Regions from separate parts of the Homo sapiens genome. Here region 1 is linked to region 2. A link means that fine-mapping ties the variant in region 2 to the expression of a gene that starts in the linked region. Tissue or cell type: whole blood. Region 2 holds a variant in brackets; the other region holds the start of a gene. All regions are shown on one strand. Distances are between the middles of the regions. Region 1 holds the start of ABAT (4-aminobutyrate aminotransferase). Region 2 overlaps ABAT (4-aminobutyrate aminotransferase).

Region 1 (12,233 bases), 46 kb after region 2:
GTGGCTCACTCACAACTCACTGCAGCCTCAAACTCCTGGGCTCAAGTGATTCTGCCGCCTCAGCCTCCCAAAGTGCTGGGATCGCAGACGTGAGACAAGGTGGCCAGCCCACTTTGCTCATTTTTAATGCATGGGAAGCTGGCGGAGATTTATTTTCTTCTTCTTCCCCCAGGAATATGTTCTCATACATACATACTATCTAGGTCCTTTTAATTCCCCACTTCCCTAACTATCCATGTTCATGCATATTTACATTTAAAAAAAAATAGGATCATACTGGCTATGTTGATTCTGTGACTTTATCTTTTTCACTAAATAATATGACTCAGGAACCTTTCAAGGTCAGGAATGTGGATCCACCTCATTCATCTAAAATCTACTCATTCTCCCACATGAATGCATATACTGTAATCCCTTCCCATACCAGTGTTGCAAGCTCTGCCATGGACATTTTTATGTTATGTCAGTGCAAGTGTGAGCATTTCTGTGTGAGATTTTTCAAAGTGGGATTGCTGGACCAAAGAGCATGCCATTGAAGTTTCGAAAGACCCTGATAACTAATCTGAAGAAGGCCCAGAACTCAGTTGTTTCTCAAACAATTTCTGGCATGGATGTTTCTCTGATGCCTGGTGGAGAAGCGGGTGATGGTCTTAGACAAGTCTTTTAACCTTTGTGAGGCTTAGTTTGCTTATCTGTAGAGTGAGAAACAGTGTCATAGACACAACAGTGCTTTGGAGATGATAAGGTCCTGTGTAGGTTGGGTGCTGTGGCTTATTCCTGTAACTCACACTTGTAACCCCAGCGCTTTGGTTGTAACTCACACTTGTAACCCCAGTGCTTTGGGAAGCCAAGGCGGGAGGATCGCTTAAGCCTAGGAGTTAGAGACCACCCGACTCTGTCTCTACTAAAGAGAAAAACAAAAACCAGACAAGAAAGTCTTGTGTAAATGTGAGAAATTAAAAATTGTTATTAATATTGGAAGGCTCCACAGCTAGACACATCTCCTTCTCCTCATTACACAGAAACCAAAACGAGGAGCTTGTGCAAGAAAGAAGCTGTTTTTGGTTTTTATTTTGTTTTTTTTTGGAGACAGTGTCTCACTCTGTCACCCAGGCTGGAATGCAGTGGTGTGATCATGGCTCACTGCAGCTTCGACCTCCCCGGGCTCAAGCAATCCCCCCACCTCAGCCTCCCAGGTTGCTAGGACTACAGGCGCATGCCACCATGACCAGCTGATTTTTTTTTTCCTGTATTTTACAGAGATGGGGTTTTGCCATGTTGCCCACGCTGGTCTCAAACTCCTGGGCTCAAGCCATCCACCCGCCTCAGCTAGGAAGCTGTTTTATATTAAGTATCAACTATGTTTAAGGCCATGTATTAGACCAGCAGTTCTCAATAGCGAAGGAAAAGGATGATTTTGCTCCCCAGGGCACATCTGGCAATGTCTGCAGACATTTCTGATGGACATGACTCATGGGGTAGGGAGTGTCACTGGCATCTAGTGGGTAGAGACCAGAGGCGCTGCTGAATATCCTACAATACACAGGGGAGTCCCACAACAAAGAATCCTCTGACCCAACTGTCAACAGTGCCCAAAATGAGAACCCCTCATCTAGACCTGTCTCTTTTCTGATGTCCAACCCCAACAAACCTCATTCAAAGACGAGGAACTGAGGTTCAGAGACATGAATGACTTGCCTAAGTTTCCATAGACAGCCACTACCAGTGGCCAACTCTCTACTCCATCTGGCTTCAGGGTCTGTGGTCCATTCCACATACTACACTGTCTCTCTAGGAAGACATCCCCTTGTCCCCAGGCACCTTGGCCCTGGCAGATTATCTACGGCAAGGGTTACAAGTTTTGCCTTAAGGCATAAGCACCTCCCCACTTCATGATTAGAGGTTTTATGACTTTGCACTTGTAATCATTGTTTCTGCTCATTTTGCTGTGTGCTAAACATTTTATGAGGATTAACTCATTTTACCCCAAGGATATGTCACAGAGAGGTTAAGATCAGACACTAAGTGGCAGATTTGTGCTCTCGACCCAGATAAGAGGTCTCCAGGGACCAACCTCTCGGCCTCTCTACCGTGGTCCTCCTCATGCTTTGAACTTCGCCTTGGCAAAGTTGGGGCACAACAACCAATCCTTTAGCTGGGAACTGGGTGGGGGCAGAAACAGAGAGAGCCTCTACTTCAGACCATGCTGCCCAGCTGGGTGGTCCTAGAGAATCTGCCAGAATTTCAGCTCTTTTCCCATGCAATGCCCCAGGAGAAAAGACGCAGGCCTCTGAACAGAGATGAGACAATGTGCAGGGAACTCAAAGCCAGAGGGCGTGGGCAGGGGCTAAGAGGGAGGGGACCTTGGAGGGAAGGAATATGACATCCTCAGGACCTGTCCAAAGTTCTTGGAGCAAACCCAGCTATGCAAGTGAGGTTCCTGCAGTAGCCTCCACTCCAGCATCTCATTCTCATTAGCTGCAACTGATCTTATTAGCTATCCTGGGTCAGTTTGGATTTTGGCAAGCCTAGATTTGGCAATGGCCTCAACACAAAGATCGCACGGGGTAAGCAGGGATGCGCTGACACCCAGGAATGGATTCCACGAGGCAGCCTGCTGGGGGATGGCATTGAGTTCCAGCTCTGCCCCTTCCTGGCTTCATGACCTTTGCAGAGCCTTGGCGCTTCCTCTGACAAGTGGGGACTTGGGACCCAGCAGTCCCCAAGTCCCCATTGTAAATGTGAGGACTGGGGCTTGTGTCAGGGATCCTAGCACCTTAAGGGTCCTGGAGGGGTTGGGGCCAGCTGTCTCCCACAGGCTGGGTGACCTTGAGCAAGTCTCTTCCCCTTTTGTGCCTCTGTGTGTTTAACTGTCAAATGAAGGGGCCACGTCTTTAATGCAGAAGCCCTTTTAGGTCTTAGGACTCCAGACTGGACCATTTACCTCTCCCCGTGGCTAACCTCTTTGGGCCTCGAGAAAACACATTTCTCTATGACTCCACGCCGCAACACAGGCTCCAAAGAGCAAGACACAACTCACTGCCTCCCTCTCTCCTGCCTCCCAACCTGACCCACCAGAGAAGAGCTCTTCCCACCCCCTCCCCACCCCCAGGTCACCAACATCCTGTCCCTTAGTCTAGCTTCATCAAAGCAGCAAAGCCAACACTGTCTCCTCCCCAGTGGATGGGCCCAGCAGCACCCATTTCTCTTGGCTGAGTGCCCAGGGAATTCCACCAGGCAATGTCCACAGGCGCTTGCGGGGGTGCACACTTTAGGGGGGAAATGCGGGCCCTCTTGGAAGAGGGCCAGCTGTCCTCCCAGACTGCAAGAGAGAATGCATTGAACACAGCCTTTGTGCGTGTGTTGGGGCAGGGAGCGGGGGAGAGGTGGCGGGTGGTCTCTGCTGGTCCTGCTGCCTCAGAGGCCATCTCTGTTGTCAGAGTTTGAAGACTCCTGGAAGGGCCTCTAGGCCCCAGATCCCAGTTTTAAGAGCTCCAGTCTTACTAAATCTCGCTGAACCCCCTCTAGTCTTACCTTGGCCAGGGTGGGTGAGGAAAGGTGAGAGGATGTGAAATAGGTGGGGCAGCCAGGTGTGGGAGTGGAGTTGGGGTGAGGTGGAGAAGGATGGGATTGGGAGCGGTGGGAGGATGGTGCAGGGGGTTACTAGGATGGGGTTTGTGTGAAAGGGCTTGGGTGGAGTGGAGGGAGGTGGATGACTTGGAGGGGTGGCCAGACCTTTGCCCTGCTCCTGAGTATGAAGGTCCCTCATTTTACATCTTTACTGGGGAGGAGAGGGGAAATCCCCAAAAGCCTTTAATGTGGTGGTGTCAGAGGCCACCCTGCCTCTCTGACGGGTAGGGAGGGGTCTCCGGCAGGGCTAAGGGTGAATCATCTATCTCTCCAGAGCCCAGTATCTGGGGTGGGAGGGTGACTTGCAGAGTCTCTGCTCCGGGATTTCCTTGTCTTATGATGGGGGGAGAGCTTCCATTTGTCATGGAGGGGGAGGTCACTGTAATTTATAAGCTGAGAAGACCCCCATTATTCCGAAAGAGAGGGGAGAAGGAAGACACCCAAACTTAGTTTTCTAAGGATGGGGAAGGGGCATCAGTCTCCCAAGAGGTGAGGGGGCTCTAGAGACCTGGAGACCACTTTTTGGGGCCGCATTCTATTTCAAGCGGTAAAAGGGAGAGGACTTCTGTCTAGAGCTGGAGCCAGGAGGAAGGGCCCATTTCTGAAGGAGAAAGGAAGGTATTTTGCTCTCTGGGGGGTGGGAGCCCCTGTCTTTTCGGGGGAGGGCCCCGCGTCTTGGGAAGATGAGGGCTCCGTTTCCAGGAGAAGATGCCCAGGTTTTGCTCCTGGGGGCAGGGCAGAAGGACCTCCTCTCGGCTCCCCTCGGAAGGGCCCGTCCCAAGCCACCCGGCGCCTCGCGCTCACCTCCAGGCCCCGTCTCCGATCTGCGGGATCCGATCCGCCGGGTTCCGACTTGCGGGATGCGCGCCCCGAGTTCCGGCAGCGCTGGGTGTCTGCTCGACTTCCCCCAGCGACTCGCCGGACTCCCTGGCTCCGCCGAGCGTCCCGGCCAATCAGCGCCGCCAGCCCCGGCCCTCGCTTTCGCCACAGCCAATGGGTGCGCCCGCCACGGGCCACCGCCCCCAGGAGGGAGGTGGCAGGCGGGGCGGGGGCAGAGTCCAGCCTCCGGGGGCGGGGGAGACGGGGGCTGGGGCGGGACCCACCAGAGGGACCGCGAGGGCTGGGAGGGAGTCCTGGGACTGGGGAGGAGACGGCTGAGGACCCCCGTCAAGTTGTGGGGACCCTGACCCTCTGGGGGGCAGCTCCATAGGTTGATTTAACCTGGATCTTAATGGGCCATTTACACCCTCAGGGCTGCAGGCGAGTGTAACTCCACCTCCACCCGCGTCTCGGATCCGGTCTCTGGAGCTCCAGAGTCGGAATCAGAAGGGGTTCCTTTGCGGAGAAGGGAAGGAGCATCCCGCCCTCCCCACCTCACTCCCCATCTCGGCGCTCAGGGCCCTGCCAGCCCTTCTTGCTCCCAGCTACTTTCCTCCGCCTGGCCCCAGCGCTCCGGAAGACAAACAGGGCGCTGGGAGTCAGAGGTGGTTCCTTCTGCATGACCTGGAGCAGGTCACTGCGCCTCCTGATCCTCAATTTCCTGAAATTGGGACAACAGAGATTGTACCTCCTTCGTGGGTATAAACGAGACCCTAGATATGATGAAGGTGCCTTTCTACCGTTGTATAAAATGCTGTGTGGAAGATAATTAATACTCAGGTGTGACGGATGGATAGCCCCCCCACAGCTTTCTAGAGGTATTTGGAAAGAGGATGCAATCTTTCAGTGACAAAATCAAAGACACAAAGAACTGCTCATCAAGACAACAGGCGATCACCAAGTCCTCATAATGAATGAATGGATGGATGGAGAGTACAGACCTTAAAGGCAGAGAAAGAGTTCAGCTTGGTTCTCCCCACTCACCCTGATCACTGATAACTTGGTCTGTGGAGTCTTGTAGAACCCTGAGGTCTCTCCTCCTGCTGTCCAGGAATCCAGGCTGCCCTATCTCTGATTACACAAGCGCTATAGTCCTTGCAATTAAAGAATTAAGATAAAGTAAACACATAGATAAATAGAAAGCTGCCAAACAAATCATTCACCTCCTAGTGTCACCTCTGGGGACCCTCCCCCCCAACACACACACACACACACACACACACACACACACACACACACAGAGCAGTAAATAAGAATAATTGAGGCCTGGCACAGTGGCTTACGCCTGTAATTCCAGCACTTTGGGAGGCCGAGGCAGGCAGATCACTTGATGCCCAGAGCTCGAGACCAGCCTGGCCATCATGGGGAAACCCCCTTTCTATTAAAAATACAAAAATTAGCCTGGCATGGTGGCACCTGCCTGTAATCCCAGCTACCTGGGAGGCTGAGACATGAGAATCGCTTGAATGGAGAGGCAGTGGTTGCACTGAGGTGAGATGGCACCACTGCACTCTAGCCTGGGTGATTGTCACCTTGCTTGAGGAACTTGATGAGGCCTGTGCTGAAAATCTAGCAATTTTTTCTTAAAACCAAAGCCATGAACATAATCCCCTTTACTACCCTTGACCTGCCCAAAGAAATACAACGGCCAATAAACATGGGAGATGACACTTTGAAAAGGAAAGGCAAGTTAAAACCAAAAGAGGGAAAGAGTTTACCTACCAAAATGACCTTGTTTTTATTATTATAATTACTATTCTTTGCAAAGACTTCAAGGAGTTTCATGTATTGATGATGGCAGTAGAAAGATCACAGCCTTTCTGGAGGGAAATTGGGTATTTCTATTTTAAAAATCTTAAAAGTAAGTTGACCCTTTGATCTAGCAATCCAATCCCTATGAACTTATCTGAAAACATTTAAAGGTACAAAGATTTAATGATAAAGTAGCTTACTACCATTTTGTTTATCACAGGGAAAAACTGGGAACAACTTGAATGCACAACAGCAGGGACTCAGAGGGAAATTGTTGCATGAAATTGAACAATAAACATAGGTATGAAATATTGAATGGGGCTGGGTGTGGTGACACGCCTGTAATTCCAGCACTTTGGGAAGCCAAGGCAAGAGGATCGCTTGAGCCAAGGAGTTCAAGACCAGCCTGGGTAACATAGTGAAACCCTGTCTCTACAAAAAATACAAAAATTATCCGGGCGATGTGGCGCATGCATGTAGTCCCAGCTACTCAGGAGACTGAGGCAGCCTTGAGCCTGGGAGGTTGAGGCTGCTGTGGGCCAAGATTACACCACTGTACTCCAGCTGGGTGACAGAGTGAGACCCTGTCTCAAAAACAAAACAAAACAAATCTCAAAATGTTAAGTTATTTGCAAAAACAGTATATTTGGTACTGTCTTACTTTTTGTTAAACATCTTACTTTTTGTTAAATCTACCAGGTAGAGCTAGATCAATGCTGTGTAATATAACTTTCTATGATGCTCTATATCTGTGCCGTCCCGTGTGGTAGCCACTAGCCACATGGAGGTATTGAACACCTGAAATGACTAATTTTGGTATCCAAGATGTTTAAAAAAAAAAAAGAAAGAAAGAAATAATAAAAAAAGGAAAAGGGAAAAATAAATTTAAAATTTTGGAAAAAGCAATGACTAGTTAACCGAATAACTGTATTTTAATTGTATCTATTTATTTATTTTTTTAGAGACGGAGTCTCGCTCTGTCACCCAGGCTGGAGTGCAGTGGTGTGATCTCAGCTCGCTGCAACCTCTGCCTCCCAGGTTCAAGCGGTTCTCCTGCCTAAGCCTCCTGAGTAGTTGGGATTACAAGCGTGCTCCACCACGCCTGGCTCGTTGTTTAATTTTTTAATTTTTAGTAGAGACAGGGTTTCGTCATGTTGGCCAGGCTGGTCTCAAACTCCTGGCCTCCAGTGATCTGCCTGCCTCAGCCTCCCAAAGTGCTGGGATTACAGGTGTGAACCACCACGCCCAGCCTGTATCTAATTTTAATTTAAGGTGTAACAGTAACAGGTAGCTAGTGGCTATCATATTAAAAGGCACCGATATAGCTAGCTAGCAATGCTGAGTGAAAAACTGTGTTCAGTAGGAGAATGGTTATTTTTGTGTATTGAAATTATAGATTATTCTAATATTACTTTATTTGCATGTCCATGTCAGTAATTTCTTTTTATCCCCTTGGGTTTATTTTTAATAGAGGATAAACTTTACAATGTCACTAATTTCTAATTATTCTGTAATGAATATATATTACTCTGGTACTAAGAAGAAAATATTTAAAATGAAAAACAGAAAGGAAAAGTCTAAACCAAAGGGCCCGGAGTGGTGGCTCACACCTGTAATCCCAGTATTCTGGGAGGCTGAGGCGGGCAGATCACTTGAGGCCAGGGGTTCGAGACCAGCCTGGCCAACATGGCGAAACCCCATCTCTATTTATAAATAATTTTTTTTTAAAAAAGAGTCTAAGCCAAAGGTTGACAAACTATAGCTCATAGACCAAATGTAGTTCATCATGTTTTCCTATGACCATGAGCTAAGATTGGTTTTACATATTAAATGGTTAAAAAAATTCACAAGAAGAATAATGTTATGTGACACATAGAAACTACATAAAATTCAAATTTTACTGTGCATAAATAAAATTTTATGGGAACACAGCCAGGCCTATTTATTTATGCATTGTCTATGGCTGTCTGTGAGCTACAACAGCAGAGCTGAGTAGCTGTGACAGAGACTCTGTGACCTGAAAAGACAACAATATTTACCTTCCAGCCCTTTGCGAAAAATCTGCCGTGTCCTGGTCTAAGGCAATCAAGGGAAATAAGAAGTGTGTGTAGCCATCTTCATTCATCTGTTCATTCATTCATTCAACTAGGTTTTGAGCACCCATTTGTGGGTCAGGCCCTAGGAAAGGGCACTTCTAGAGGATAAAAGGAGCTGCTTTGTCTCTACTTAAGGACTAGGGAGAGAAGGCTATTTAGAGCCAGGTGCTTTGCAAGCTGATTCTCAAATAGCTTCATTGTGATACTTGTGAAGAAAACTGTCAGCATGTGGAAAAAGCCCTTTCCATATTGGCTTCCCTTGCATTTTCTGCCATTCTGCAGTTTTCCTATGGAGCTGCTTGGGGTTGCAGCTGTCTGCCAGGGAATGCAGAGTGTTTCCCAGAGTTTGGCTGAGGCCTGGGATGAAGACTCACCCATACTCTGTGCCTATCAATAAGCTCCTTCCAGAAGCGCAGCTGTAGCTGGGAGGGCCCCCACTGCACTCTGGAGAGGAGAAATGAAAACAAAGGCAAGGGTGAATGAGGCTCCAAGGGTACCAGTTGTCTCCACAGGAGAGACTCTTAGAGATCAGCAGCCCATTGTACAGAAGAGGAGACTGAGGCCCAGAGAGGAGGAATAACTTGTCCAGAGCCAGATTAAAGCACATATTTTATTGACTAGGCCTGTGATTTCCACATCCCTGGTCACAAAATAATAAAGAGATATCATCTATACAAAATAATAAAGGGCATTTTGATGTGGTGGAAAGGGGATCAACTTGGGAGTCAGACCTAATATTGAATTCTAGTTCCAACTCCCAATGGCTATGTGACTCTGGACATGTCATTTACTCCCTCTCAGTCTCTATGTTCTAATCTGTAAATTGAATAAAGTATCTACCACGTTTTCACATGTAAAAGAAAGAAGATAGACGCTTACCTCACACCATATAAAAAAACTAACTCAACATTGGATCAAAGACCTAAATAAATATAAGACCTAACACTATAAAATTCTTAGAAGAAAACATGGGAAGGGGGAACAGGTGCAATGGCTCACACCTGTAATCCTAGCACTTTGGGAGCTCCAAGGCTGCCGGATCACTTGAGCCCAGGAATTTGAGACCAGTCTGGGAAACCTGGCAAAACCCCACTGTTAGAAAAAATACAAAAATTAACCAGGTGTGGTGGTGTGTGGCTGTGGTCTCAGCTACTTAAGAGGCAGAGGTGGGAGGATTGCCTGAACCTGGGAGGCAGAGGTTGCAGTGAGCCAAGGTTGTGCCATTGCACTCCACCTAGCCTGGGTGACAGAGCAAGACTCCATCTCAAAAACAACAGCAACAAAAAAGCATTTTGATTGTACTTAATGCCATTGAATTGTACACTCTAAAATGGTAAAAATTGGTGAATTTTGTGCAATGTGTATTTTACCATAATAAGGAAAAAAGTATGTACCACAGTAGGTCATTGGTTGGGTAAGTAAGGGAAGTTTGCTCCTGGTCCCTGCTGGGCACTGTGCATTAGCCCTGTACATAGTTGTACTAGTTTCACCAAACTATCTGCTTGATTGTGAGAGGTGGGCCAGAGCTCATTCATTCATTTAGTAATTTTTCCATCAATTTGTTCAGTCAACAAATACACATTTAGCACCTACTGCGTGCCAGGCATTGGGGATTGTGGTCCTGACCCCATGGAACTTCCATTCTGCAGCTGGGAGACAGTGTATAAGAAGATGAATGTGTAACTAAGAAAGCTCTTTTCTTTTTTTTTTTTTTTTCTTTTCCTTTCTCTTCTCTTTTCTTTTTTTCTTTCTGTCTTTCTTTCTTTTCTTTCTCTCTCTCTCATTTTTTTCTCTCTTTCTTTTTTTCTCTCTCTCTCTTTCATTCGTTCTTTTTTTTCTTTCTTTTTGAGACGGAGTCTTGCTCTGTCACCCAGGCTGGAGTGCAGTGGCGCTATCTTGGCTCACTGCAACCTCTGCCTCCCCGGTTCAAGCGATTCTTGTGTCTCAGCCTCCCGAGAAGCTGGGATTACAGACGTGTACCACCATACCCAGCTAGTTTTTGTATGTTAAGTAGAAATGGGGTTTTGCCATATTGGCCAGGCTGGTCTCGAAATCCTGGTCTCAAGTGATCTTCCCACCTTGGCCTCCCAAAGTGCTGGGAATGCAGGTATGATCTACTGTGCCCAGCCTAAGAAGCTAATTTCTGATAATAAGTGCTTTAGGGAAATGCAAAATAAGATGATGTTCCTGGGATCAGGGTGGGTACACCAGCCATGATGCTCAGGGAGTTGTCCACAAGGCTGTGACATTTAATCTGAGGCCTGAATGCTAAGAGGAAGGCTTCTATGGGATTATCTTGTGCTTGTTCTCATGCATTTTGGCCCTCGTGCTAGGCTCCTAGAAGACCCAAGGGCTGCCTCCAGCTTTCCTCCTCTGAACATCTCAGGTAATATGGGGAAAGCATGAGAAAGTGAGCCAGGCCCAACAGGCAGCTGCTGCATCTGACACGTCACACACATGTCAGGGCTTTGTTCTGCTGCCATTGTGATGACTGGGACCGCCAGCATTGCCAGCCCAAAGGATGCACGGCAGTGCAGTCCCCCTTCTGGCTCAAGATGTAGTGAAATGACAGGGGAGCTGGGTCATACTGCCACCCCCATGCTCTGCAGGACTTCCTAAAGGCAGAAAGTGAACAACAGACAATTCTCATGCTCAACATGTCAGTGGTGCCGAGCTTGAGAAACCCTGCCTGAGTTAATGTGTATGTAGTTCCAAGAATATAGAAGGAGCTTAGTACATCCTGGGTCCCTTCCTCCTGTGGCTAGAGATACCCTGCCTATTTACCCCAATTCTTCTTGACAATACATGGCTGTGGTATCTCCAGGGATCAGTTGGAGTGTAGCTCCCTCATCGAGACTGATGGAAAAAATAGCTAAACATGTACTTCTTTTCTGAGTTCTTTGATGACTTGACTTCTGACAGTGCTTGGCATGCAGTAGGAGTTCTAGGAATACGTATCAATTTCACTGCATGAAAAGGACAGCAGGATGCTGAGGAAGGACATCTTGGAGAGCTCTTGGGGAGCTCTTGGGGAGCTCTTGGCCCTGAGGCGCTGTCCAGGAACTCTGTGCTGAAACTTTACAGAGGAGGAGAAAACCCCAAAAATGTGGCACATATACACCATGGAATACTATGCAGCCATAAAAAAGAATGAGATCATGTCCTTTTCAGGGACATGGATGAAGCTAGAAGCCATCATTCCCAGCAAACTAACACAGGAACACAAAGCCAAACACCACGTGTTCTCACTCATAAGTGGGAGTTGAGCTGTGAGAACACATGGACACAGGGAGGGGAACATCACACACAGGGGCTTGTCAGGGGATTGGGGGGCAAGGGGAGGGAGATCATTAGGACAAATACCTAATGCACGCGGGGCTTAAGACTTAGATGACGAGTTGATAGGTGCAGCAAACCACTATGGCACATGTATACCTATGTAACAAACCTGCACATTCTGCACATGTATCCCAGAACTTAAAATAAAATAACAAAATAATAAAGAAAATAAAAATTTAAAATAAATAAATAAAACAACTTTATTAATTTTATTAACATAAAAATTTTGTTAAAAGAAAACCTGAACTGAGATTGAACTCTTCCCCACTGAGAAAGCAAGCCCAGGCATCCTTTCTCCCTCTCGTCCTCATCTCTCCTCCCTACAGACAATGGAAGATGAAAATCAGGAGACAGAGCCGGGCGCGGTGGCTCAGGCCTGTAATCCCAGCACTTTTGGGGGCTGAGGTGGGTAGATCAACTGAGGTCAGGAGTTCGAGACCAGCCTGGCTAACATAGTGAAACCCTGTCTCTACTAAAAATACAAAAAACAAAAAAATTAGCTGGGCATGGTGGCAGGTGCCTGTAATCCTAGCTACT
Region 2 (11,907 bases):
CAGGCGCGCTGGCTCACGCCTATAATCGTAGCACTTTGGGAGGCCGAGACGGGTAGATCACCTGAGGTCAGGAATTCGAGACCAGCCCGACCAACATGGAGAAACCCCGTCTTTACTAAAAATACAAAATTAGCCGGGCGTGGTGGCAGGCGCCTGTAATCCCAGCTACTTTGGAGGCTGAGGCGGGAGAATCGCTTGGACCCGGGAGGCGGAGGTTGCGGTGAGCCGAGATGGCGCCACTGCACTCCAGCCTGGGCAACAGAGTGAGACTCCATCTCAAAAAAAAAAAAAAGAAAAAAGAGATATTGGAGTTGGCTGTCTTTTGTAGATGGGAAGGGAGAGGACCAAAGAAGTGTGTGTAGAGTAATGACACACTCTGATCACACAGACTTATTCTTCAATTTCCACCTGCTACAGGCTGTGTGACCCCAAGATTGCCATTGTTTTTTTTTTTTTTTTTTTTTTTGTTTTTTTTTTTTTTCCTGAGACAAGGTCTGGCTCTATTGCCCAAGCTGGAGTGGAGTGGTGCCATCTCAGCAACCTCTGGCTCCCAGGCTCAAGTGATCCTCCCATCTCAGCCTACCGAGTAGCTGGGACTATAAGCACATGCCACCACACCTGGCTAATCTTTGTATTTCTTTTTTGGAGAGATGGGGTTTCACCATGTTGCCCAGGCTGATCTTGAACTCCTGGGCTCAAGCAGTCCTCCCACCTTGGCCTCCCAAAGTGCTGGGATTACAGGTGTGAACCACCATGCCTAGCTGAGAGAAGCTAATTTTCTGTGCAGTATTGAAATGGCAAATAAATGTTACAACACGTGCCAGTGCTGGCCAATGAGTATTGCCTATTTGGAGCAGCGAACAAAAAGATTTTACGGCCTCTTTTAGCTTTACTTATTTTTTATTTTTCATTATTTTTTGACCTGTTAGCAGGAAGCACTCTTTTAGGTTTTCAGGGGAAAAAATGTGATAGATTAGTGATGTCTGTTATGTGCACCATAATAGATAATTAAGATATGTGGGTTGTGCATGGAGGTGGTATTTGAGCCTGGGTTTTAGAATATAAAGCTTGGGGCTGGGCGCAGTGGCTCACACTTGGAATCCCAGCACTTTGGGAGGCTGAGGTGGATGGATCACCTGAGGTCAGGAGTTCAAGACCAGCCTGGCCAAAATGGTGAAATCCTGTCTCTACTAAAAATATAAAAATTAGCCATGCATGGTGGCGTGCACCTGTAATCCCAGCTACTGGGGAGGCTGACACAGGATAATTGCTTGAACCCGGGAGGTGGGGGTTGCAGTGAGCCTAGATCATGCCACTGCACTCCAGCCTGGGCGACAGAGCAAGACTCCGTCTCAAAAAAAAAAAAAAAAAAAAAAAAAAAAAAATATATATATATATATATAAAAAGCTTGGATCCAAACCACTGCCCTATCTTAGGTACTTGTACAACAGGGTGAAACTTACAAAAATGCTCTGAGCCTCAGTTTCCTGATTTGTAGATTGGAGATAGTGATGCCTCTCTCACTGCAGGGTTGCGCTGGGAATTAGGGATAATGGATGAACACATCCTGGACAATCATAGGCACACAAGTCATTTGCATTTACTCTGTCTCTGACTTGCTCCTGTCTTATACTTGCTGCTGAAGATGTAGTCATTGATTCTAGAGCCCTATGGTCTGAGATCCCTGGAGATTTCTGGAGTTGCCAAGGAAAGAGGCCCCACAGATAGGCAGACTTTCCCTGCAGGCTTGCACTGGAAACCCCAGATGCAGGCTGCCACAAGGGAAGGCTCTCTTTCTTGGTACAGAAGCCTGAAGCACCAATGATGATAGAAGGGAGCTGGGTGCCCAGGGTTCCAGTATATCCCTGCTGGTGCACAAGTCTCCAACATGCTCTGGTCCAACTTGCCATCATCCTTCTCCTGGATGAAGGCAATGATATCCTAAATAGCCTCTCGGCTTCCTCTCTTTATTTTTTTGAGAGACACGATCTTACTCTGTCACCCAGGCTGGAGTGCACTGGTGTGATCTTGGCTCACTGTAACCTCTGCCTCCCGGATTCAAGTGATTCTCCTGCCTCAGCTTCCTGAGCAGCTGGGATTACAGGGGCACGCCACCACACCTGGCTAATTTTTGTATGTTTTGTAGAGACAGGGTTTCACCATGTTGGCTAGGCTGGTCTTGAACTCCTGACCTCAAGTGATCCCTCGGCCTCCCAGAGTGCTGGAATTACAGGCATGAGCCACCTTGCCTGGCTGGATCACATTGTTTCTAAGGCCCGTTCGGACTCTAAGAAACACCTGACAAGCGTGCTAAGAGTTCCATATTACTGAGAATTTGCCACAGCATTTTCCCCAAGCCTTGCTCCTACCTCGAAGTTGCATTAGTATATCCCTCTTTGATTCTACCAGGCCCTTTGCAATCCGCTAGACCCTGGATGGGCGCATCTGGGGAAAGAAGCAGGTGAAGGATTCCTGGTTAGAAGGGAGGTGCTTTCAGAGCACTGGCACGCCATGAAATTGTGACCAAGGAGGTTGGAGAAATCTGAAAATCTGAAGTTACAGCAGGCTGGTTGTTGGCCCTCCTGGTCTCTGAGACCCCCAATCTCCCCCATGCATTTCCCGAACCTCAGTTCTTGGCATACTACCCTTCCTTTGAGCTCTTATGTCTCATATGACTTGTGTTGACTTAACATTTTTCTTGAAATCAACTTGCTTTTTCAATTTAAAAAAGTAATTTTCCTAGGATCCTTTCCAATTGCTACCTTCTGGCCAGGTGTGGTGGCTCATGCCTGTAATCCCAGAATTTTGGGATGCCGAGGCAGATGGATCAGCTGAGGCCAGGCGTTTGAGACTAGCCTGGCTAACATAGTGAAACCCCTGTCTCTACAAAGAAAAATATAACAAATAAAAAAACCTAATTGCTATCTTCCCCCGTCAAGTTTTATTTGCTACGAAGGCAACTAGGAAAAGAACATAATAAAATCAAAGCAAGTTATTCAATTAAAAGCCGGACAGAGTGGACCGCCCAAGGCTATAGCCCCAGGCCTGGCCCCCTCCTTTCCCTAGAGACTGGCAGAGAGCAGACAGGTGTTAAAGGCAGGCTGGCATCACATGGGGACCTTTTCCTTGACATGATCAGAACTGAAAGAGAAATTTAAATCCATCAGTAAATCAAACAGAATAGGAATTGTCAGGGTACATAGCAAATGCTGGTAATTTTTGTTTCAGCTGTGCAGTGGGCCTGAAGTAAGTTCTATTCCTTACTGTGTGTCTCAGTCAAAACAAGTCAAAACCCTGGTCTAGCCAGATAGTGAGCTCTTCAGTCCCACCCACCTCTCCTCGTCCTTTTTCTTTTGATTAAAATGCAAATTAGCTCTCTCTGCTTCCTTCGTGTGTCTGGTGCATTGCGGGGAGGGGCGAGATGAGCTAAGAGGCCGAGTTCAATGTTTAAATCAGTAAAAGTGAGAGGAATTCAGGTGAAAGTGGAAACAAACTCTTCCAATTTGCTCTGGAGAAAGAATAATCATAGTAAAAGTACCAGCTCCCATTTATTTACTTACTGTTCACCTACCACATGCAATAGACCTTCCATAGATCCTTTCGGTAATCTGCAGGATTGGCTGGCGTTATAAAACCGGTTCAGAAGCCTAAAAGGCTTGTTCAAGGTCTTAGAGCTCAAAAGCCAGAAATTTCTAGCGTTGGCTGCACCTGACGCTCGCTCACCAGAAGCTTACACTTGTGTCAAAGCCCCACCCAGACTAAGTAGGTCTGAGTCTCACAGGTGTGACCTGGGCACCGGGGGAAGCTCTGGAGGCTCGGAGGCTGAGAACTACTGTTAATTACCATAAAGAGTGGACGGTGGGCCCTGCATATGACCACAGGACTTCATGATCCTCAAATCCCTGGAACTGGAGGTCAAACATCCCATGGATACAGGGAGAAAAAAGCCTGTGGAGGCAGAGTGTGAGGTGCTGGATATGAAACTGCTTCTTCCCTGCATCTCCCCAATCTTGCATCCTTCAAAATGATCTTACCCCCAGACTAGACATCCCTGGCCTCTCACTGACCCGCCGTATAACCTCAGGCACATTAAGTAACGTCTCTGTGCCTCAGTTTCCTGATCTGTAAAATGGGAGTAATAGCAATTGGAACTATTTTGTGGGCTGGCAGAAGTCCTTACTGTTTCCCCAGCCCCAGAGCAGTGCCTGCCTGCAAACAATCATTGAATAAACAGTAAATGCTCAACAAGCAGCCTATGAAGATGGCGTCTGACTCACCTTTCTACTCCGCTGCTTCCCAGGTCCTGTGAACACGAACTCTTTGCATGCATCATCGGCTAGAAATGGACCCCCCAGATCTCTCTAGAAAAGACCCTGCCTCTCATTTTCCTATCAGCCGTTGGGACCAAGACAAAAGTGCTGGCAGACGCTGAGGACATTCCTTTCCCGTCTGCAGCCCCAGCTGCTGGCTTCTCTGCAGACTCAAAGGGACACAAAGACACACTCAGCCAAGTGCACTTCAGTTGTCAAGGCCAGGGGTTGCCATAGCAACCCATAAAGCCGGAGCCGTGGGCCTGTGCAGATGGGGTTAACAGGGCCCCATTCAGGGGCAGTGGCACAGGGACAGAGGCTTTATCTCACATCCACTTTTCTCCTCCGACTTCAGCTGCAACAGCCTCTTCTGACTTTCCCCTCCGCATGGGCCCCAGCCCTCTCTCCCTGCAGGCATGACTTCCTATCACCTGCCTCTTGGGCATCATAAAATTATCAGTGACTTGTATAGGGAGACAGAAATACTGTTCTTGGAAACAGGCAAATGTCCATTCCTAAGAAAGACTGAGAATGATGTGGGGAAAGTAACAAGAGCCAGAAATTGGGTCTAAAGTGTGGCTGGGCCATATATATTACCTAGGCAAGTTGCTGAACTCATCAGTGCCTTAGTTTCTGCATCTGTAAAATGGGAAGAATGAAATCTATTTGTGGGGTCAGGAGGCACTCAACTGGCTTAGGGTCAATTGAAGAAAGTACATAGGATGTGGAAGAGATGCCTGTTGCAGGCCATTTTCTGTTTCCAAAGAGCTCTTTAAAATTGTGCATTTTGGCTGGGCGCGATGGCTCACGCCTGTAATCCTAGCACTTTGGGAGGCCGAGGCAGGCAGATCACCTGAGGTCAAAAGTTCGAGACCAGCCTGGCTAAAATGGTGAAGTCCCAACTCTACAAAAAAATACAGAAATCAGCTGGGCGTGGTGGCAGGTGCCTGTAGTTCCAGCTACTTGGGAGGCTGAGGCAGGAGAATTGCTTAAACCTGAGAACCGAATGTTGCAGTGAGTAGAGGTCGTGCCACTGCTCTCCAACCTGGCGACAAGAGTGAAACTCCATCTCAAAAATAAGTAAACGAGTAAACAAAAATTGTGAACAACTTCTTTTTTTCCTTCTCCTTCTCCTCCTCCTCCTCCTTCTTTCTTCTTCTTTTTTTAGACAGGGAGAGACAAGGTCTCACTACGTTTCCCAGGCTGGACTTGAAGTTAGTAAAGGCACTTCTTCTATGGCCTGATGAGCTGCTAAAGACTATTGGCACATGCGGTGGTCCTGCTACCAGCCTCAACATCCAGATTTCATGAGAAAGAAGCTGATCTGCCTCATCCTCATGCTCCTGTCTCAGAGTCCTCTCTGCCCACCTCAATCAGGAATCCAGGGAGAACGAACACATCGTTGCTAGCAGGCAGGTAGTTACCCAGCCTGTGAAAAAACTGGAGAGAAAAATGAACAGACAGGGCTTCACATCCAAGCCTCCGAATGTGAGACACAGATAGCCTTTGTTCTGGAGGTAGGAAATAATATGGAAAGAAACATCTGCAAAAGGATAAGCTAGCTTTGGATTTCTGATCCTACAAGGGAGGAGGAGTGAAAGAATGGAATTGGCTTAGAAAGGATGCTTGGACCCATGCTGAAGTAGCTACCCGGGCCAACGCCACAGAAGGTCCGGCTTGTAAAATCTGTTTGTTCAGTTCAATAAATGCTTTCTGCACACCTGTGCCGAGCCCCAGAGATTCCTCAGTAAACAAGGACACGTCCTGCTGTGTTCTGTGGGATCTCGTGTTCCCGTGGGGAGGCCCAACAAGCAACAAACAAATCAGGTCGGTGTGATTGGAGGAAACGCACTTCCCGTTCAGAGAAAACAAACCACTTTCACGGACTCCAGAAACCGCTAAGTACGCAAAAATCACAGCGTATAACAAGTGAAACATTTATATTTCCTTCAAGGACCACACAGCTCCAGACTTGGAAACACTTTGTTGGTGGCTGGAGTCACGCTGTGTGCCTGGCAGCATTCCTACATGCACTTGCAAAGACCTTAACTTTTCTGTAATTCAAAGTATCTTTCATTTATGCCTGTGTGTGCAGGTATCTGCTCTGATTTTACGAATGAATGCCAATCGTGTCAAGGTTTCACATACACCGTCTTATCTACTCCTGGGAGGCAAATACTTCTATTCCTGTTGTTCTCTAAAACCCTGCCCCCTGACTGAGGCTGCCATTTAGGGGTCATCTTCCCAGAGGCAGGGGCTGGCTCAGGGGACCTCAGAGACCAGCTCTGGGAAGCATGTACCTGGAGGGTGCCCTCCATTTCCAGGGTCCAGAACGGTGTCTGGCTATTGTAGGTGCTCAAAAACACTTGTTGAATTCAATCATGGAGTTTCAGCCCTATACTCTGACAACTACAGGAACTGAACTGAAAAGCAACCTCTGAGTCCCATCCGTCAGATTAATGCAATGTTTCTCAAACTTTTTTTCATTGCCATTCCCCTAAAGATTCTTTATTAGCTACATACCCCATGAAATTTTAATTCCACAGATAAATTGTACATCTGCTTATGTATTGTATTTTATATCTGTACTTTATTCATAAAGAGTAAGATTTCTTTTCTTTCCCATAAATGTTCACTCTCTTGGGAATACTGATCCCACTAAGAATGCAGGGATTAAGCGCACACCTGCCATGTGCCAGTTGCTGGGTTGGACATTTGTTCTGCTTCATCTTATTCCATTCTTGCAACAGTATTACACAGTATGCATCATCAGCGCTATGAGACTGAGGATGAGACTGAGGTTCAGAGAGGGTTGTGGCTTATCCTGTGTCACACAGCTTGTCAACGGCAGAGCCAGTCTTCAAACTCGGGTCTGTGAGGCTTTAAAGCTAGTGCTGTTCTGTTTCCTTGCACAGAGAAATAACATGCCCAAGCTCACCTCATGGAGAAGAGGTGACCTGGGACCTGATGTGTAATCCCAGCA[T/C]GTTGGGAGGCCAAGGTGAGAGGATCGCTTGAGCCCAGGAGATTGAGATCAGCCTGGGTGACAGAGCGAGACCCCATCTCTAAAAGAAAAAAAAAAAGAGGTGATTTGGGATTTTAATTTAATTCTTAAATTAGTCCTTCTGATTCCAACTTCAGTTTCTTTTTACCCAATACGTTGCCTCAAAAATATCTTTAGGCTACTTGACAAACTCACTGGGTATAAAAATCAGTGTCTTGGACTATCTTAAGAGAGAAAGGAACAGAAAAGAAGGAACAGAAAGAGGTGCCTGATGGATTGATTGGGAGACTCTGGTCTAAGCTACAGCACCAGGGCCAGTGTGTATTAATGTAACTTAGAAATCAATTCACTGCACTGTCACCTGCTGGTCTGGTTTGGTTTGGAGTCACAATGAAGGCACAGGTAGTATGCTCTAAGACAGTACTGCCCAAAAGAAATATAACACAAGCTTTCAATGCAAACCACATAGGTAATTTTACATTTTCTGGTAGCCATATGAAAAAAGCAAAAACAGCTGAAACCAATTTTTTTCATGTATCTTATTTAACCCATTGTATCTAAAATGTAATAATTTTGATACATAATCAATATAGTTATTATTATTACTTTTGAGATGGAGTTTTGCTCTTGTTGCCCAGGCTGAAGTGCAGTGGCACAATCTCGGCTCACTGCAACCTTCGCCTCCCAGGTTCAAGCGATTCTCCTGCCTCAGCCTCCCGAGTAGCTGGGATGACAGGTGTGTGCCATCACTCCTGGCTAATTTTTGTATTTTTAGTAGAGACAAAGTTTCACCATGTTGGTCAGGCTGGTCTCAAACTCCTGACCTCAAGTGATCCACCCGCCTTGGCCTCCCAAAGTGCTGGGATTACAGACGCGAGCTACCGTGCCCGGCCATCAATATAGTTATTAATAAGATATTTTGCATTTCTTTTTCGGATGTGTGCTAAGTCTTCAAAATCTGGTGTGAATTTCACACTCACAGCACATCACAGTTTAGAATAGCCACGTCTCAGATGCTCAATGACCAGATGTGATGAACGGCTACTGTACTGGCCTGTGCGGGCTGACGCATTGCATCAGAATTGGAGTGTGGTCACAGGAACATACAATCTGACCTGCTGAAATGCCACGGCCTGCCTGGGCCTGTCTGCTGCAATGACGTAGGCACAAGTAGTTTAGTCTAGGAGAGGCTCTCAACGGGATCCAATAAAAAGGGAGAGCAGACAGGGCTGGCTACATGATGTGTGGGACCCAGTGCATAAAATAAATATTCGAGGCCCCTTGTGAGAAAATGGTTACGAATTGCAAGTCAGTGACATGGGGGGATCTTCTGAACACGGGACCCTGTGTGACCATATAGATCACAAACCCATGAAGCACGCCCTGGGTACAGAAGAAAAAACACCCTTCAGGTTTCCCCATCACTGGCCAAGGTGAGGGTGCTGGGATCACGACTGCAGCAACAAATACAATTAGCAGCAGCAACAGCAGACACTTGCTCAGCGCTTACTTTAGGCCAAACCCTGTTCTAAGTTCTTTATATATCATAATACCCATCAGAACAACCTTCTGATATTATAATTATCCACTCGTAGCAAAAAAAAGAAAAAAGGAAACAGATCACAGAGAGGTTAAGTGATTTGCCCGACATCACACAGCCATGTAGTATCTTTAGTACTAAATTTCACAAAACAGGGGGTGGGGGCATAATGTGGCCTGGGCTTACAACTAGCTGTGCCTCTGTTTTCTCCACTGGAAAATGGGTGTGATAGAGCTCTCCCATCCCCAAGCTGCTCTGAGGATGAAATGAGATAATCCACGCGCAAAGCTAAGCAGAGTGCCCAGCCTGGGCACTGGAAAATCTTCAGACCCACATAAAAGTTATGAACATAGTTCCACAGCCGCTTGTAATCCTCGAAACTGTTAACATTTTGCCACACTCGTGCCCACTCTATTATCTGTCTTCTGAATTATTTGAGTTAGTTGTGGACATTGTGATATTTCATCCTTGAATCCTTCAGCCTGTATCTTCTAAGAACAAGAATGTTCTCTTACATAACCTCAGTACAAATGATCTGAGATACAAAGTCACTCTCATGAAGGTACCATTAATAAAATACTATTATCTTTTTTTAATTTATTTATTATTGGCATATTCATGACATAAAAATACTATAAATACTATTATCTAACATACAATCTATATTCAGATATTCCCACTTATCCCTAAAACTTCTTTAATTGTTTTTTTTTTTTTTTTTTTTTTTAGAGACAGGGTCTCGCTCTATCACCTAGGCTGGAGTGCAGTGGCATGATCATGGCTCATGGCTCACTGCAGCCTCGAACTCTTGGGCTCAGGTGATCCTCTTGCCTCAGCCTCCTGAGTAGCTGGGATCACAGGCACACACCACTATGTCTGGTTAGTTTATTTTTATATTTATTTTTTGTAGAGATGGGGTCTCCCTATATTCCTGAGGCTAGTCTCTAACTCTTGACTTCAAGTGATCCTCCTCCCTCGGACTCCCAAAGCACTGGGATTACAGGTATGAGCCACTGAGCCCAGCCCACAAGTGTTTTCTGTTCCCCTGATCCAGGCTTCATCCTAGGATCAAACATTGCATTTGGGCTCATGGCTCTTTAATCTCTTTTAACCTGGAACCATTTCTCAGCCCTTTTGCCTTTTAAAAGACATTGGCGTTTTAGGAATCCCAGCCAGTCATTTTGCATGTAGTTGCGTGAATAGTCTTCTTTATGTCCTTGCAAAATGAAGTGCAGCTCACGGGCAAATGTGGAGAAAGAGGTCGGTTGGACATGTGATGTCAGAGGGTCCAAGTGATTTCTGCAGGTAGAGGAGGGCGTATAGTGTTAGCTGTTCTTGGGTGGAAGTTAAAGATTTCCGGGAAGCAGTGACGGGATGTTTAACGATAATTAGAGCTTGGCAGGTAGACAAGGGCAGTCGTGGCAGACAGAGGCCAGGGTAGGGGAAGGGGGATGGCAGCCCGGAGGAAATGCAGGCAGCAGCAATGTGTCTGAGGGTGAGCGTATCGCGTGTGATCGGGTCTGTTCCTATTTGAACTGGAAACTCCCTGAGGCCAGTCCTTGTCTCCGGCTCTGTCCTCTCCGCCAGGGTGCCCAGTGCCTACTCCAGAGTCAGGGTTCACTTAGAGCAACCGGCTGCCAAGTTTCCCAAATACCCAGGGACATGCAAAGCACAGAGGACCCCCTTCCTCCGGCAGCGGCCTGGCTGCCAGCTTGCACACACCAACTGCAGGATCTTCAGCGCCAACCTTTCAGGATTCCCACATCTTGCCCTGCAAATGAAATTGCATTTTCTAAAATTGCTTTCTTCTGGTTGCCTCTTGGGGCATAGGCTGCTTCTGGGAAAAAATTCAAAATGAACTTCTAATCAGCCACAAGATGTGAAGAGAGCGGCTGTCCAGAGCTTCCTGACATCTACTCTTGGCGTGAGCCGCCCTGGCTGTCAACTGAGATTCTCACTGCAAACTCTATCTGAAATGCCCAGTGACAGCGCCCCCTGAGCCTTCCATTCCCCTGAGTTTCAAAGAGAAAGGGGTGTGTGTGTTTGTGCTGTTCTTGTCCTTAGAACGAAGGGAAAGGATTTATTTAGCGGCTTGAACAAAAATGCCTTTTCAAGGTGACCCTCACTTCATTTCCTAGGACCAGATGCAGGCGGACTGTGGTGTTGCAAGCCTATTGATAAGAGCAATTCCTTATCTCATCATTTCTATATCCATCTTTCATTATTTTGTCCCCACTTTAAAGGGTCTCCTCCTGCTGTGTTCACAAAGTGTCCTTGAAAAATCTGTTAAGTACATTTGTGTGTCCTACACACAGAGAGCCAGGCACATGTGCACGCATGTACACAGATGCACAAGGGTGTGTGCCCCCCCGACCTGCACACCCCAACACCACAGATAACAGGCACTGACAGACACTGGCACCACCTCCCCATGGCAGCAAATACATACACATGTAAGGATGCACACAGAGACACACATACACATTTGCACTCACGGTGCCTGGTAGTCGGAGTCCTGCGGCGAGCTCAGCTCGCTTGCTTAAAATGCCTTCTGTATGCCATTCTGCAGAGGCCAGGAACGCAGCTGGCTGGGTTCATCCTAAGAGGTGCCGTTGGGCACCAGCTCCCTCCTCAGGAGGGTGTCCCGGATTTCCAGGCAGTCCCCAAAACATGGGGACAGGTGGAGGAGACAGAAAAGGGCCCCTTGGAAGCAGAGCAGGTTTGGGAAAAGGATGCACTCAGCTGGTACCCGGCAAGTGCGCAAGGGAGAGGGACGGAGGGAAGGTGAAGGAGGAGGGGAAAGACAGAATGTGAGAGACTGAAAGATGGATTCAGAAAGACAAGGGTTTTCAGACAGAAACAGGATGCAACTACACAGAAACAAAGATTAACAGAGGCAGAAGGAGAGCGATAAACAGAGAGAAAAAAATAGAATACAGATTTTTTTTAAAAGATGTTTTAAGCCCAGCTTGGTTTAAGCCAGAAGGATAAGACACATCATTTCAGACCTTGTAAAATAGGCTATCTCCCTCCCCTTTTTCCTTCCAGGGCCTCT

The links.
Region 1: it holds the start of ABAT, and the variant in region 2 is fine-mapped to the expression of ABAT in whole blood (INTERVAL, PIP 0.98).

The regions. Positions count from the first base shown.
Region 1 is chr16:8,666,913-8,679,145 of GRCh38, reverse strand. It overlaps ABAT (4-aminobutyrate aminotransferase), which reads right to left and starts at 4,529. Exons shown (of 16, transcript NM_020686.6): 1 at 4,435-4,529. It also overlaps a transcript of METTL22 not described here. RefSeq lists a silencer at 4,477-4,936 and enhancers at 4,531-5,030, 5,031-5,532.
Region 2 is chr16:8,713,306-8,725,212 of GRCh38, reverse strand. All of the region lies in intron 1 of ABAT (4-aminobutyrate aminotransferase), which reads right to left. Among named protein-coding and RNA genes, the nearest start is that of ABAT, 45 kb to the right of the region's middle. RefSeq lists an enhancer at 4,610-5,110. The variant T/C (reference allele first, on the strand shown) is at 7,295.